3 separate regions of the Homo sapiens genome follow, and regions 1 and 2 are each reported to be linked to region 3. Evidence: microRNA targets listed by miRTarBase, many of them from high-throughput screens and not tested one by one. Region 3 holds a microRNA gene; each other region holds the end of a gene's coding sequence.
What was found. Region 3 holds the annotated microRNA hsa-miR-4797-5p (GACAGAGUGCCACUUACUGAA, at 1,844-1,864, shown strand). A microRNA usually pairs through its seed, bases 2 to 8, with sites in the 3' UTR of a target mRNA and lowers its output. Matches are read on the target gene's strand: a 7mer-m8 pairs with bases 2 to 8, a 7mer-A1 pairs with bases 2 to 7 and ends in A, and an 8mer does both.

Region 1: miRTarBase lists NIFK as a target of hsa-miR-4797-5p. The part of its 3' UTR that is shown has no 7-base or 8-base seed match.
Region 2: the mRNA of DOCK7 is a reported target of hsa-miR-4797-5p. The part of its 3' UTR that is shown has no 7-base or 8-base seed match.

Annotation. Positions count from the first base shown.
Region 1 is chr2:121,725,125-121,728,124 of GRCh38, reverse strand. NIFK (nucleolar protein interacting with the FHA domain of MKI67) reads left to right here. Exons shown (of 7, transcript NM_032390.5): 7 at 213-1,180. The coding sequence ends at 401. It overlaps NIFK-AS1 (NIFK antisense RNA 1), which reads right to left. Exons shown (of 4, transcript NR_037857.1): 4 at 1-322. Among named protein-coding and RNA genes, the nearest start is that of NIFK, 10 kb to the left of the region's middle.
Region 2 is chr1:62,452,984-62,455,983 of GRCh38, forward strand. DOCK7 (dedicator of cytokinesis 7) reads right to left here. Exons shown (of 50, transcript NM_001367561.1): 50 at 1,743-2,473. The coding sequence ends at 2,431. Among named protein-coding and RNA genes, the nearest start is that of USP1, 17 kb to the left of the region's middle.
Region 3 is chr3:197,292,599-197,295,782 of GRCh38, reverse strand. MIR4797 (microRNA 4797) reads left to right here and starts at 1,835; the gene lies at 1,835-1,905. The region is part of intron 3 of DLG1 (discs large MAGUK scaffold protein 1); the gene reads left to right.

The DNA.
Region 1 (3,000 bases), not on the chromosome of region 3:
GGAACATGCTATATTTGTTAATTGTGAATTTCTGTACCAAGTTTGATAAGCATCTAAGTTCTTTATTCTTTGCAATAGTATCACCAAAAGATGGTAACAGAGCTAAAATAATGGGGCACAACTTGTAAAAATAGAGGAGAGATGATATTTTTGGGTAAAGTCATAATCATGTTTTACATTTATGTATTATAATCTTTACTTGTTGAATCCAGGGCCCCACACCAGTTTGTACACCAACATTTTTGGAGAGGCGAAAATCTCAAGTGGCTGAACTGAATGATGATGATAAAGATGATGAAATAGTTTTCAAACAGCCCATATCCTGTGTAAAAGAAGAAATACAAGAGACTCAAACACCTACACATTCACGGAAAAAAAGACGAAGAAGCAGCAATCAGTGATTTTCAATGTATTATATTTCTTTTGAAAAATATAATATTTTTATGAGAGTGGACTTTGTATTTCACTAGGTACAATGGAATACAACCTTTGACAAGATTTTCAGAGGAAAAATACACTGTTTGGTCAAGTTAAGGAAAGCAGTGTGTAATTTTGGATTGCCTGCCCTTGGCTGAAATACAGGGGTGCATACCATCTTGCAGTGGCTTGGCTGACATTGCCTCTTTGTCCTGGCCTCTAGTTTTCTTTTGATATTTCATAGCTCTCCTTAGTTTACTCTGCCTGGATAGAAAGTTGACCACTAACTGCAGGTTTAAGTACTAAACTGCAGCCTTTTCTGTCGCCAGCAATTAAAGACCACCAATCTTGTTTGTCCATCTACATGGTTTGTCGGGGACATTTAACTCATGGAGGTGCTTTAGATTTCAACATCAGATGGTTGAAGCTGGAAGTTTAATTATATGTAGAGTGAGAAGGCAGTTCCAGTTTTAGCACAGATTTGTTTATGTGTTCAGATTTTAATAGAGATTCAAAAATGACTCATTTTTACCAATAATGTTAAATTAGTTTTGGTTGTGCTAGCATGAATTAATAACCACCATTTTATACCAGTATCATCAGTGAAGAATTGTATTTCAAGATTCAAACAATAACCAGCAATTAAACTTTTTTCTACAATGTATTTGTTTGCGAGTAGGACTTGGGAGTCATTGGGAAAAAAAAATAATAAATTTTCCCCTTCATTAACGAATTCAGACTCATTAAAAACATTGCCATCAGATGTAGTAGCTTGTGCCTGTAATCCCAGCACTTTGGGAGGCTGAGGCAGGAGGATCACTTAAGGCTAGGAGTTGGAGACCAGCCTGGGCAACATGATGAGAGCCTCTTTCTACAAAAAAATTTTAAAAATGAAGCCAGGCACGGTAGCTTGCTTCTGTAATCCCAGTATTTTGGGAGGCCGAGGCGGGTGGATCATGAGGTCAAGATATCAAGACCATCCTGGCCAACATGGTGAAACCCCATCTCTACTAAAAATACAAAAATTAAATGGGCGTGGTGGCAGGTACCTGTAGTCCCAGCTGCTTGGGAGGCTGAGGCAGGAGAATCGCGTGAACCCGGGAGGCGGAGGTTGCAGTGGGCCAAGATCACGCCACTGCACTCCAGCCTGGTGACAGAGGAGACTCTGTCTCAAAAAAAAAAAAAAAAATGAGGTGGGCATGGTGACACATGCCTATAGTCCCACCTACTTAGGATACTGAGGCAAAAGGATCACTGAACCTAGGAGTTTGAGGCTACAGTGACCTATGGTTGCACCATTGCACTCCAGCCAGAGCGACAAAGCAAGACCCTGTCTCTTAAAAAAAAAAAAGCTGGGTGTGGTGTCTCACGCCTGTAATCCCGGCCTGACCAACATGGAGAAACCCCGTCTCTACTAAAAATACAAAATTAGCCGGCCGTGGTGGCGCATGCCTATAATCCCAGCTACTCAGGAGGTGGAGGCAGGAGAATTAGTTGAACCCAGGAGGTGGAAGTTGCAGTGAGCCAAGATCGCACCATTGCACTCCAGGCTGGGCAACAAGAGCGAAACTCCGTCTCAAAAAACAAACCAAAAAAAATTCATTATCACTCTCTTAAAAAAGATTTTTTTTTAATTCATTGCCACTAAGCATTCTTTCATCTAGCATTTCTTAAGTCTTTAATACGATACAGGGCTAGGTGTTCTGATGCAAAATAGAGTTGGTTTTAAGTACATGCAAAAAGCAGATTAGATCTCTAGAATGGTTCCTGGCACATAGAAGATTTAGTATGTATTTGTTAAATAATGCCCTATTTGAACCATCTCTGAGCTTCGTGGATCTGGACATCTGGTTTCCCCTGGGAAAGCGTCAGACAAGGTTCTCCATGTGAAGACATAAGTCTGTTGTGTTTGATCTTAAGGGGCATGTGCATTCAAACACATACATGTACATGGCAAGATGAACTGAGTATTTCTCCCTTCCTGAACAGCCACCTGCCACCCCCCTTATTTGTTTGTTTAGAGACGGAGTCTCACTCAGTGTTACCCAGGCTAGACTGCAGTTGCACAATCTCTGCTCACTGCAAGCTCTACCTCCCTGGTTCAAGTGATTCTCCTGCCTCGGTCTCCCGAGTACTTGGGATTACAGGCATGCACCACCACGCCCAACTGATTTTTGTATTATTAGAGACAGGATTTCACCATGTTGGCCAGGCTGGTCTCGAACTCCTGACCTCAAGTGATCCACCCGCCTCGGCCTCCCAAAGTGCTGGGATTACAGGCATGAGCCACCACCCCCAGCCAGCTATAGACATTTTTTGTAAAAAAAACTTTTTTTTAATGGAAAAGTATATATCAAAATTAATTCAGTTATCTAATTAGGTTTTTCCCTGTTTCTTTTTTGTTTTTTTCATTGAAACGGGTCTTGCTATGTTGCCCACAGTGTTCTTGAATTCCTGGGGTCAAACGATCCTCTTGCCTCAGCCTCCTAAAGTGCTGGGATTACTAGCATGAGCCACCAGGCCAGCCATTTTTCGCTTTCTTAATTTTTAAAAATTAATGAGGTTTTTGTTGCTATTATATAT
Region 2 (3,000 bases), not on the chromosome of region 3:
GTTTATACCCACCACTGACCCCCAAAGAAGAAGGGAAAATGTCACTTTTTTTGGAGGGGAGGGATTTCCATTCTTGACTCCTTACCTTTCCTTATTGTTCATTTGGCTCCTCAAATAGAGTTTTGAGGTTATGCCCTTCTGACTCAGATTTGGTCTAACAATGTAGACTCATCTGAAAAATGTTTTTGTGATTCAGTCTTTGAATTGATATAGATAAGAGGAATTTGAGATGATACTGCCCATTAAAGTACATGGAGTGTGGGATATCAACCATCACTTAGGCTCTCAGAAGTAGATATTTTTTAGTATATTTTGAATATTTACTACATTGACTATAGAATGAAGGCAATACGTTAAATCTGACCAGTTTTTGTTTTTTTTTTTTGAAACGGAGTCTAGCTCTGTCACCCAGGCTGGAGTGCAGTGGCGTGATCTCAGCTCACTGCAAGCTCCGCCTCCCGGGTTCACGCCATTCTCCTGCCTCAGCCTCCCGAGTAGCTGGGACTACAGGCTCCTGCCCCCTCGCCTGGCTAATTTTTTGTATTTTTAGTAGAGACGGGGTTTGACTGTTAGCCAGGATGGTCTCAATCTCCTGACCTCGTGATCTGTCTGCCTCGGCCTCCCAAAGTGCTGGTTTTTGTTTTTGACTTAAGAGTCTTGCTCTGTCGCCCAGGCTGAAGTGCAGTGGCGCCATTTTGGCTCGCTGCAACCTCCACTTTCCAGGTTCCAGTGATTCTCATGCCTCAGCCACCCAAGTAGTTCGGATTACAGGCACGGGCTACTACACCTGGCTGATTTTTGTGTTTTTGGTAGAGATGGGGTTTCACCATATTGACCAGGCTGTTCTTGAACTCCTGGCCTCATGATCCGCCTGCCCCTGCCTCCCAGAGTGCTGGGATTATAGGCCTGAGCCACTGCACCCAGCCAATCTGATCAGTTCTTTTATATATATGTGTGTGTATGTATGTATGTGTGTGTGCGTGTGTGTACAGATGATAGTTTTTTTTTTTTTTTTTTTTTTGAGACGGAGTCTCTGTCGCCCAGGCTAGAGTTGCAGTGGCTCCATCTCTGCTCACTCCAACCTCTGCTGCCCGGGTTCAAGCGATTCTCCTGCTTCAGTCTCCCAAGTAGCTGGGATTACAGGCTCCTGCCACTGTGCCTGGCTAATTAATTTCTGTATTTTTAGTAGAGACGGGTTTTCACCATCTTGGCCAGGCTGGTCTTGAACTCCTGACTTCGTGATCCACCCGCCTCGGCCTCCCAAAGTGTTGGGATTACAGATGTGAGCCACCGCACCCAGATCTGGTTAGTTCTTAAGTGATTCATGTAACTGGTCAGTAGAAGAAAAGGATTATAAATGATGCCATTCTGTAAACTGCACTACTACCCAAAAACCATTGTTCTAAACTGTTCTGGAAATCATTACTATGCATCGTTTTGGAAAAACTTGCCAAGAATTAAAATGTTACTTCTCAAATTTTTTTTCTGTATGACTTGCATATAATTTTAGATGAATTAAAGCACCTAATTTTACTTTTTATATGCTTCTAAACTTTACAAGTGTCAGAAAATAGGTAATTTCTCAAACTCCAGCTGTGTTACCTTCATGGTGCTACAAGATAGCTTTAAGTAGATTCTAATTTACTGGTTTACATCGTCAAAAACTGATGGCTGGTTTTAATTTGAAACAGAGAAATCATTCATTTTAGTTGCTAAGAATCATGAAGTTCTTACTACTATCATTGGTGTAATAAGATTTAATCAAGTTAAGGTGTTGTCACTGGTATTAGTTATCCCCGTATTTAAATTATTTTACACAAAGGTTTTACTAAGTAAAGTTCTGCAATTCTAAATTCCTGTTTTGGGTATGTAAATGGAAAATAACTTTGAAACAGTTACCAAACTCATTAATTTGGGGCTATCTATGATTTTTATTCTGCTAGGTTTGGAACTAGTTCTTGAGTCAACCCTTTAATTGTTCTCTGCCATTGTCAATAATAAAAATTTTGAAGTCCCACTCGGTAAAATTAGTGTAAACATTCACATATTTAATAGTACCTTTAAAATAAGCATTACTACATTTAAAATGGTTCCAAAATGAATCTATAAATGGTAATATAAATTAAAAAATACGAACTTAAAGTGAATAAATTTTTAACCTTAGCTATGGTATAAATAATGGTAAATGTATAGTGTACCTTTGAGTCATTAAAATGTCTTAAAAGATAACAGCTTGTTACCAGAACATTAGAAACCATAGCCATGATTCTCAAGCGTTAACAATCTACATTTGATATTTTCTTGGCCACTGCATTCTTCAATGAATAATAATTTCCAGAATTCCATTCCATGTTGTTTTCCAATAGATCTTTTCACACTCGATGTTGAATACATGGCTCTTTGCAGATGAATAAAACAAGTGCATTCAGTTTAGAGATCCATTTTGCGAAGGCTCATTCGACTGAAGGAATCTCTGGGAAAAAAATGAGAGGACATAGTTAGTTAAAGAGAACAATTTTTGCATATACCTTTAAATGTCTTACATGGTTTTTTCTGCCAGTTACCTTAAAGTTTTGCCACCATTTCTTACTAACTTCCAAGTTGGATGCTCATCCTACCTACTCTGCCTTATATTTTGGCTTATAGATTTAGCTATAGAAGTGTATTACAGTCACCACTTACTGGTCTTTTGTATTCGTTTGTCTGACTGATGCTGCAGATATTGTAATAAACAAGACAAGGACTTAAGGGATAATGGGAGAGATTTTAGGAAAAGATTTGGGGTTTTTTACACGGCAAAAGGCAGGTGTTTATTAAATTTTAAGTCTTAAACCAGTTCTCAAACTTTGTCTCAGGTCCCTTTTACACTCTTAAAAATTATTGAGAACCCCAGGAATCTTTTATGTGGGCTATATATGGATGTTTATCATATCAGAAATTAAAACTAAGAACATCTTAAGTTACTATAAAATAACCCATTACATGTTACTATAAATAGCA
Region 3 (3,184 bases):
AATAAGAGTCCTGAGTTCTTTTGCCACTAATTGAATGATATATCCCAAGTCATTTAATCTTTTCTATGCCACCATATTAGCTGTAGAATGTAGCTGTTGAAATGACAGAATGGGTTTAAAGCCTTTTTTAAGTAGATAAATCATTTTTAAAAGCATCATCTCATATTTTGTGTATAATCTCCTATGTATAAAACAAGGTGACTTGTCTGGCTCTTTTGTCCAGGTACCTCAAAAAGTTTGCAAACCACCGAACTAGAAAGTTTGTCTCTTCCAATTCTAAGAATGAAGTTTTTTTTTTTTGTTTTAGTTATCAACTATATAACATTTTAACATAAGAAGACATATACTTAATTATATTACATTTATTTCTTCAGTAACTTCCAGTCAGATATGGCCTTACATCTATCTGTTGATAGAATAATTGTTGGTGTGATTTGAAGACTACTTTCAAGTCAGTGTGTCCTGTCAGGTACATTATTGATAAATGGATGCTCTCTACGGTTTTAGAATGAAAGATTTTTGTAAAGACCACTTGATGCACCTGAACAATTTTGAAAAATGTAACATTTTAATAGACTTTTAAAAACATAAGGATACATAGCACAGTGTAATGAACTGCCTTTTAACTGTTACCCAGCTCCAGAAATTCACATTTTGCCATTTTTGTTTACATTGATGGACATTTTTTACACATTTGAATTTCTGAGGTTTAAGGTCCGAATGGATGATCAAATTGGATTCCTCTGGAAAAACAGCAAAAAGCATTTTTTAGTTATTTGTTTTCTAAATCAACATTGAGCCTAGTAATTTGGTGCAGTTACTGTTGCAAAAAAAGTATGTTTTTTCGCAACAGTATAGAGATATATATATACATATATGTATAGATAGGCAGATAGATAGACTGCAGACTTTTCTTTGTGTGATGGCTGTAACTTAAGAAAATTAAATCGTTAGTGAAATAACAGAATCTACATTTATATTTCTGTCTAGATTGGGGATGGGTTTGCTGTGTTCAGAGACATTTTTGACCTATTCTGCCTTGCCTGTTTTGAATGTGTCTATTCTTACGTACAATTGAACTTTGATAGAGTTAGCTTTCTTCTCTTTTTTTTTTTTTTTTTTTTTGAGGCAGAGTCTCACTCTGTCACCCAGGCTGGAGTGCAGTGGCGAGATCTCCGCTCACTGCAAGCTCCGCCTGCCAGGTTCACGCCATTCTCCTGCCTCAGCCTCCTGAGTAGCTGGGACCAAAGGTGCCCACCACCACGTCCGGCTAATTTTTTATTTTTTGTATTGTATTTTTAGTAAAGACGGGGTTTCACTGTGTAAGCCAGGATGGTCTCGATCTCCTGACCTCGTGATCCACCCACCTCGGCCTCCCAAAATGTTGGGATTACAGGCGTGAGCCACCGCGTCTGGCCTAGAGTTAGCTTCCTAATTACTAAGTTTATATTTGTGAATCTTCTAATTTCATTGGTTGTGAATTTACTTTGACATTTAAATTTACTTATATTTAATGTTCTATAGGATGTGGTACTATATCACATTTTGGTGTAAGACAAGTAATAGATTTTAGGAGTTTTGAAATAGATAACGTTTAATAGAGGTTCTGTGTGTTTCCATGCTATAATTGTTGATACTACGGAATAAATACATTCTCTTGTGTTTCCTGAATAACTTTTAATACTTAGTCTGAAAATGTTTAGTCTGATAAGATTTTCTTTGTATTTTGCAACTCTACCATTGTTTTGAAACAGTGTCATAAATGTACTTTAAGCTTGTAAACTGCCCTAAGCTAAACCAGTTCATTGTGTCCATAGTGTTTGCAGAAAAATCCGACTCAGAAGACAGAGTGCCACTTACTGAAAGGTTTTTTCTCTCAGTAAGTGGCACTCTGTCTTCTGAGTTGGTACCTGTGGACCACTGGATTAAAGGAGAACAGGGGTCTTGGCCACCTGAGCTGTTTGGAGTCATTGAGTGCTTAGATTTTTCACTTCCTTAATTTGGAAATCACTTGTTTAGGCCGCAGTGAGTTATCTAGTTATCTGTTTGGGGTGCCAAGTGTCTTTGGATTTTCAGTCTGCATTGATCATTTATTGATTGATTCTTTGAACTGGTAGTTTATATTGACTTTTCATGCATTTAAAAAAGTTTGAGTCTCTAGGGGTTTGGTGTCCCCCCCTGTAGTTGATACATAGATTAGGTTCCTGTACTTTTGGATTATTCAGAGGGACAAGCATGTACGTACTGTATTATATTTGTTCTAAAATACCAACTGTTAAATATTTCAATATCTGGTATATGTCATTTTTAATTGACAGTGTTTCTGTGTTCTGACACATGAAATAGTGCATTTTATAATTGATACTCGCAATGTAATATAGAAATCATTGGTCTAGTGCTGATAGATACTTGGTAGTATCTTTGAAGGATGGCTTAAAGATTTAAAAATTATTGAAAGCAGAAAAGTTTTTACTAATTTTGAATTTCAGCTGATGTATTGTTTCTTTAGAGCTAAATATTTAAAGTTGTATCTTAACAAAAGTCCATGAACTGCACATTTGTTTAAAATTTACTCCCAAAACATACCTGGTGATTATTTTTGTATAAAGGAAGATAAAGTCTGCTTAATTTCACTCTGTGATTTAGGTGAGAGCAATTTGAAAACTTGCTTTTGTATTCCAGTTTTTTGTGCTTAAGTTTGAAAATTTTTTGAGTAGACGGGATATGGTTTGATTATAATCAGAGCCCAGGTATTCAGGTCCATAGTGGTTTCAGTTCATTCATGATTCTAAGGTGTGTGGGATCTGAGATGACACTGCTAGTCCATAGAGACTTCATACCAGTCTAAACCCCTGCAGTTATTTCTTACGGGATCAGAGAACTCATCTGCTTTCCTTGTGCATGAGAAAAACTGGGGCCCAAGATTAGGCTGGCTTTAGAGACTTGAGTAAGTTGAGTCATGTGATTTGTATATTTTGTCTGCAATAAATAAGCTTATTCTAATGCAGTGTTTTATTTCTGCAGAGATTTCAGAATGAAAGTGGATTATGTAATAATACTGTCCATTTATGAGTTTAGTTACCAGTTCATTTGTTGCCACTCTATTAAAATCTAATAGTTTCACTAGCCCTTATAAAAGGACATTACCCTATCTTTATTTGTAGATACTAGTTTCAAAAGTATG